Homo sapiens: one gene and its partner. The gene in region 2 interacts genetically with the main gene of each other region. Each region holds a gene or a part of one and is shown on either strand. Other genes may lie near its edges. The genes, in order: SUV39H1 and EHMT1.

The links.
Region 1: changes in EHMT1 (region 2) and SUV39H1 together harm fitness more than expected from each alone (negative genetic interaction), as found in Homo sapiens cells (one large-scale study listed by BioGRID).

Annotation. Positions count from the first base shown.
Region 1 is NC_000023.11:48,706,714-48,709,809, forward strand, and holds the end of SUV39H1 (histone-lysine N-methyltransferase SUV39H1), read left to right. Parts: intron 1-723; coding exon 724-857; 3' UTR 858-2,303; downstream 2,304-3,096. UniProt on the Homo sapiens protein: Histone methyltransferase that specifically trimethylates 'Lys-9' of histone H3 using monomethylated H3 'Lys-9' as substrate. Also weakly methylates histone H1 (in vitro).
Region 2 is NC_000009.12:137,810,692-137,814,504, forward strand, and holds part of EHMT1 (histone-lysine N-methyltransferase EHMT1), read left to right. Parts: intron 1-769; coding exon 770-924; intron 925-2,314; coding exon 2,315-2,482; intron 2,483-2,694; coding exon 2,695-2,839; intron 2,840-3,739; coding exon 3,740-3,813. UniProt on the Homo sapiens protein: Histone methyltransferase that specifically mono- and dimethylates 'Lys-9' of histone H3 (H3K9me1 and H3K9me2, respectively) in euchromatin.

The DNA of each region.
Region 1 (3,096 bases), on a different chromosome or scaffold from region 2:
AACCAAGGAAAATTCTTTAGCGGGAGCTTTAAGATGCTCTTCCTGACTCCCAGTCCCCCATTCGGACTACTAGACCCCTGCCTACCCCTCGAGTCCCCTCATTCCCAGCCCCTGAACCCTAACCCTGAGGCATTCATACCAACTTCTCCCAAGATTCCTGGAGAGTTAAGAAACTCCTGACTCCAGTCTTGACTGAGTTTCCCTCATCCCCCAGCCCCTCCCCACTCCTAGCTCCCTTTGGCCTTCTTCATCCCAAGCCTCTGGACACCCTTGTGGCCTCCAGCCAGTCCCCTCCTTGATAAGCTAGCCACCTCTGAGACCCTCAAGGGCAGGTCTTTGGCAGGAGAGTTCAGATGTACCTCTGGATGCCCAGGTGGCCCTCTATTCCTGCCCCTGCCCCCCCCCACACACCTAAAACGACCCTCCTGGTTCCTTGACGGCTCCCTGCCTCCCCCAGCATTCTTCAACCCCTGGCCTGAACAACCTCCAGTGCTGAGCCCTGGCCCTAGCCCCAAACCACCAACCCTAAGATCTCCCAACTCAAATCCCAGAGTTGCTCCCAGCCCCAAAGATCCTTGGTCTCATGGTATAAAGGGTAGTGGGACCCTTCATCCAGGCCTTCTAACAAGTCCCCTGCCTCCTTCCCTACCTTCCTCCCTCCCTCCTTCTCCCCCTCCCTCCCTGCCTCCTTCCCTCCTCTCCTCCCTGGCTGTGACTCCACAGTGGACCCCGTGGACATGGAGAGCACCCGCATGGACTCCAACTTTGGCCTGGCTGGGCTCCCTGGCTCCCCTAAGAAGCGGGTCCGTATTGAATGCAAGTGTGGGACTGAGTCCTGCCGCAAATACCTCTTCTAGCCCTTAGAAGTCTGAGGCCAGACTGACTGAGGGGGCCTGAAGCTACATGCACCTCCCCCACTGCTGCCCTCCTGTCGAGAATGACTGCCAGGGCCTCGCCTGCCTCCACCTGCCCCCACCTGCTCCTACCTGCTCTACGTTCAGGGCTGTGGCCGTGGTGAGGACCGACTCCAGGAGTCCCCTTTCCCTGTCCCAGCCCCATCTGTGGGTTGCACTTACAAACCCCCACCCACCTTCAGAAATAGTTTTTCAACATCAAGACTCTCTGTCGTTGGGATTCATGGCCTATTAAGGAGGTCCAAGGGGTGAGTCCCAACCCAGCCCCAGAATATATTTGTTTTTGCACCTGCTTCTGCCTGGAGATTGAGGGGTCTGCTGCAGGCCTCCTCCCTGCTGCCCCAAAGGTATGGGGAAGCAACCCCAGAGCAGGCAGACATCAGAGGCCAGAGTGCCTAGCCCGACATGAAGCTGGTTCCCCAACCACAGAAACTTTGTACTAGTGAAAGAAAGGGGGTCCCTGGGCTACGGGCTGAGGCTGGTTTCTGCTCGTGCTTACAGTGCTGGGTAGTGTTGGCCCTAAGAGCTGTAGGGTCTCTTCTTCAGGGCTGCATATCTGAGAAGTGGATGCCCACATGCCACTGGAAGGGAAGTGGGTGTCCATGGGCCACTGAGCAGTGAGAGGAAGGCAGTGCAGAGCTGGCCAGCCCTGGAGGTAGGCTGGGACCAAGCTCTGCCTTCACAGTGCAGTGAAGGTACCTAGGGCTCTTGGGAGCTCTGCGGTTGCTAGGGGCCCTGACCTGGGGTGTCATGACCGCTGACACCACTCAGAGCTGGAACCAAGATCTAGATAGTCCGTAGATAGCACTTAGGACAAGAATGTGCATTGATGGGGTGGTGATGAGGTGCCAGGCACTGGGTAGAGCACCTGGTCCACGTGGATTGTCTCAGGGAAGCCTTGAAAACCACGGAGGTGGATGCCAGGAAAGGGCCCATGTGGCAGAAGGCAAAGTACAGGCCAAGAATTGGGGGTGGGGGAGATGGCTTCCCCACTATGGGATGACGAGGCGAGAGGGAAGCCCTTGCTGCCTGCCATTCCCAGACCCCAGCCCTTTGTGCTCACCCTGGTTCCACTGGTCTCAAAAGTCACCTGCCTACAAATGTACAAAAGGCGAAGGTTCTGATGGCTGCCTTGCTCCTTGCTCCCCCACCCCCTGTGAGGACTTCTCTAGGAAGTCCTTCCTGACTACCTGTGCCCAGAGTGCCCCTACATGAGACTGTATGCCCTGCTATCAGATGCCAGATCTATGTGTCTGTCTGTGTGTCCATCCCGCCGGCCCCCCAGACTAACCTCCAGGCATGGACTGAATCTGGTTCTCCTCTTGTACACCCCTCAACCCTATGCAGCCTGGAGTGGGCATCAATAAAATGAACTGTCGACTGAACAAACCAAGATGTGAGGTGCTTGTGTGGGTGGGGGTTGAGGGGATAGAGGCTGGGAGCTGGGTTTGCCCAGGAACATGTTCCTCAAACCTCAGCCATTTGACTCTAATCCTCACAATTTCAGCCCCCACAGCATATCACTTACACCATCATCTATATAACATCTTGACCTAAAATAAGTTTGTTTTATACTTAAACTTTAAAATGCACTTAAGGCTGGGTGTGGTGGCTCACATCTTTAATCCCAGCACTTTGGGAGGCCGAGGCAGGCAGATCGCTTGAGCTCAGGAATTCGAGACCAGCATGGGCAACATGGTGAAACCACGTCTCTGCTAAAAATACAAAAATTGGCCAGGTGTGGGGGCATGTGCCTGTACCTGTAGTCCCAGCTACTCAGGAGCCTGAGGTGGGAAGATTGCTTGAGCCTGGGAGGTGGAGGTTGCAGTGAGCTGAGATCTCACCACTGCACTCCAGCCTGTCTGTCTCCAGAAAAGAGCCAAACCCTGTCTCAAAACAATGCAATTAAATTGACTGGTTTAGACTGGCCGTAACTGGTTTTGACTGGACTTGACCGATCTTGACCTGTGTTGGCCGACTTTGACTTGTCATGACTGGCTGTGACTGGTGGTAGCTAGCCGTGACTGGCCTCGACTCGTTTTGACCAATCAGGACTGGCTTGGACTGGGATTGACCAGTTTTGACTGCTTAAACTGGCTGTGATCAGCCTGGACTGGCTTGGATTGGCCTGGACTAGCAGGGACTGAAATGGATTGGTTTTGACCAGCTTTGACCAGCCTTG
Region 2 (3,813 bases):
GTAAAATTTTTTGTTTTTTTTTTTGAGACAGAGTTTCGCTCTTGTTGCCTAGGCTGGAGTGCAGTGGCACGTTCTCGGCTCACTGTAACCCTCTGCCTCCCGGGTTCAAGCAATTCTCCTGCCTCAGCCTCGCAAGTAGCTGGGATTACAGGTGCCCACCACCACGCCCGGCTCATTTTTTGTATTTTTAGTAGAAACGGGGTTTCACCATGTTGGCCAGGCTGGTCTCGAACTCCTGACCTCAGGTGATCTACCTGCCTTTGCCTCCCAAAATGCTGGGATTACAGGCGTGAGCCACCATGCCCGGCCCAAAATTTTAATTTAATCAAATTTGCACGTCCTTTTTTCAAATCTTTCAAAAGCATTATCCTATCCTATGACTATACCCCTGCTTGGAAATGAATATAATTTTTAAAAATACATGAAAGAAAAGTGCCTCCAAGTGTTAATATGTTGAGTGTAGGTTGATATAATTCTGGATGACCTTTTCCCTATTTTTATTCTTTACTGTGATTATGCTACTTTTATAATTATGTTATTTTTACAATGAAACAAACAAAACATGAAACGAAGTGCCTTCCAGAGTTGAGATGGGCGCTAGGTTCCCATCCGGTGACCTGTGGCACCCTTTCCACCTGGCCCTGCTGCGGACGGCCACGCATGCTCCAGAGCCTCTCCCCGGGCACATGGGCTGCAGCTGCTGTGGCCCAGCCCCAGCACTGTGAGCCAGCAGGAAGCCTGCACTGAGCTCTGGCTTGTGTCTGTTCAGGAGGAGAACATTTGCCTGCACTGGGCGGCGTTCTCCGGCTGCGTGGACATAGCCGAGATCCTGCTGGCTGCCAAGTGCGACCTCCACGCCGTGAACATCCACGGAGACTCGCCACTGCACATTGCCGCCCGGGAGAACCGCTACGACTGTGTCGTGTGAGTGCAGTGCTTCCCCCAGCGCGGGCTGGCGCTGACCTGACCTGGGCGCCCAGAGAGACCGCTTGACAGTCTTGTGTTCACACTTGGGGCGTGAGTGGACACAGGCCCTCTGTTCCTTCGTGTGGAAGTCCATCCTTGGTGTTCCACACGCAGAGAAGTGTCTTTCCCAGTCCACGTTTGAGATCAGCTGTGGTTTATTTCTGGGTTAGGGAGGATTGTCATGAAAAAATTCCCAAGTTGGAGTCTCAGACCTGATACTCCTCACATGGCTGAGGGGCAGCATGGGAACAGCCCTGCTCCCAGCAGGGACCTGCCAGCTCAGAGTCCCCGAGAGGCTCAGGGTGCCTTCTGGGAGCAGTGCCACCCACAGCCAGGGCTGGAGTTGCTGGGGGCTGTGGCACTCGCCACTCAGGGCCCTTTTAAAACTTGAGACCTTCAGCTGGGTGGTGGTGGCTCACGCCTGTAATCCCAGCACTTTGGGAGGCTGAGGCAGGCAGATCACCTGAGGTCAGGAGTTTGAGACTAGCCTGGCCAACATGGTGAAACCCCATCTCTACTAAAATACAAAAATTAGCCGGCCATGGTGGCATGTGCCTGTAACCCCAGCTACTCCAGAGGCTGAGGCAGGCGAATCGCTTGAACCCAGGAGGCAAGAGATTGCAGTGAGTGGAGATTGCGACGCTACACTCCAACCTGGGCGACAGAGTGAGATTCTGTCTCAAAAAAAACCCAAAAAACAAAAAAAGCTTGAGACCTTGATCCCATAAAGTCATCCACACTCAGGTTGTTGTTGGTGGCCTGGGATGGAGTGTGTGTTTGGCTGCTGGGGAAGGACAGGGAACTGTGGGTGCTCCAGGCACCAGCCTCCAGTGACTCCCTGGCCCCTACACATGGGGCTGTGCCCTCCCACATGTGGATCTCACGGTGGCTCAGCCAGGTTGGTCATCTGGTTGTGTGAAGCCCAGCTCCACGTACGATGACTGCAGTCTGGATGCAGTGAGCAGGAGTGGAACTGAGGACTGCTCACGCTGTGCGTGGCCCAAGCTTGGCCTCTCTCCCTCCTTGCTTCCCTTCTTATCCTTGAGGGTAAATTTGAATGAAAAATCCAAGAAAAATCAAATGCCGCCCTGGATTTTACACTCTTCCTGCTAAGAAAACAGCCTGCTGACTTTGACAGTGAATGTGGGAGAGGAGGAAGGGAATCATGTTCCTGGGTGAGCTAAAGCCCGTCTTTGCAGAGTCATTGCTGAGCAGACTTGTTCAAGTTATCTCACAGTGAATAGTGTTCCCTTTATTGTTAGTGATGACGGACATTTTATAAATCTCATCTGTATCACATTTTCAAGTCAGCTTTAAATGTTTTGTGGCCTTACATTTTCCCTTTTAGCCTCTTTCTTTCTCGGGATTCAGATGTCACCTTAAAGAACAAGGAAGGAGAGACGCCCCTGCAGTGTGCGAGCCTCAACTCTCAGGTGTGGAGCGCTCTGCAGATGAGCAAGGCTCTGCAGGACTCGGCCCCCGACAGGCCCAGCCCCGTGGAGAGGATAGTGAGCAGGTGAGCCCAGCCCCAGGACGGCTTTGTGGCAAATCAGCGGTCAGCAGGGCTTTGGGAACTTGCGGTGAAAGCTGCTCCTGAAGCCGAAACATCCCCAGGCTGCAGTCCAAATTGTCAGGGCCAGGTGTTTGCCAGCCGCCCCACTGCACGCTGTGCCACCCCCTGGGCAGAGCACGTCAGCCACCAGGTGACACCTGTCCTTTCCATGGCAGGGACATCGCTCGAGGCTACGAGCGCATCCCCATCCCCTGTGTCAACGCCGTGGACAGCGAGCCATGCCCCAGCAACTACAAGTACGTCTCTCAGAACTGCGTGACGTCCCCCATGAACATCGACAGAAATATCACTCATCTGCAGGTGAGTGACGGCAGATGAAGGGCTGACTCAGGCCAGGACATGGGACAGGCAGAAGCTTCTTGAGCCTGGGGTCCTGGGTTCTCACCACTCAGAGCAGGAGGGCTTATGGGGGGCTTCCCAGGAAGACCTCATTCTCTTTGTAGTTGCCTCCCGTGAAAGAGCTGGAAGGCAGATAAAGGTTCTGTCAGGCCCAGCCCTGGGCCCTCTCATTGCTCTTCCAAGGCTTCTTACCGACCCAAAGCAGTGGCAGGCATCTTTGTGCCTTTTTTGTAACCTCACACTCAGGGGCCCCGGTGTGGCTTCGTGCTGGGGGCACAGGCGAGAGGAGCCCTTGCGAGGCCTGCAGGACGACCTGGATCCCTGCACCTCCCAGCCCCCGGAGAGATGGGTCCAGCACATGCCAGCTTTCCCAGCCTCCGAGTGCATGCAGCCTGGTGCCCTCACTGCTTGCGCCTTCTCGAGCACTTTCCTTGTGGCTCTGCTTGTGGGCAGCTCCCTCCTCTTCCCAGGCCGGGCACTGCCCAGGCCCCCCCCCCCCCCCGCCCCCCGCCCCACAAGGTGTGTCAGGCTCTGTGTTCTTGCCTTTCCCATCGAGCATCTGGCCACAAATGCAGCCGCCGCCCAGCCCTTCACCCACCCCACGTCACCCACTGCCGCGTCGCTGCCCTGCCTGCCCCCTGTCCCTCTGTCAGGGTCCTCAGCCAGAGCTCCCTCCCACAGGCACTCGACATGTTTCTGCCTGCACAGCCTTCTCCCTAAGAGGCCACACACTCACGTGGTGCCTTTGAGAAGCACTTACCAGAATCAGGGTTAACAGAACTGGAAGACGTAGTTGTGACTGGGAGGGGAAATGGAAGGCCTGTGCCTGCACGTCTGACCCCCCGGCGCCTCTCTTCTCAGTACTGCGTGTGCATCGACGACTGCTCCTCCAGCAACTGCATGTGCGGCCAGCTCAGCATGCGCTGCTGGTACGA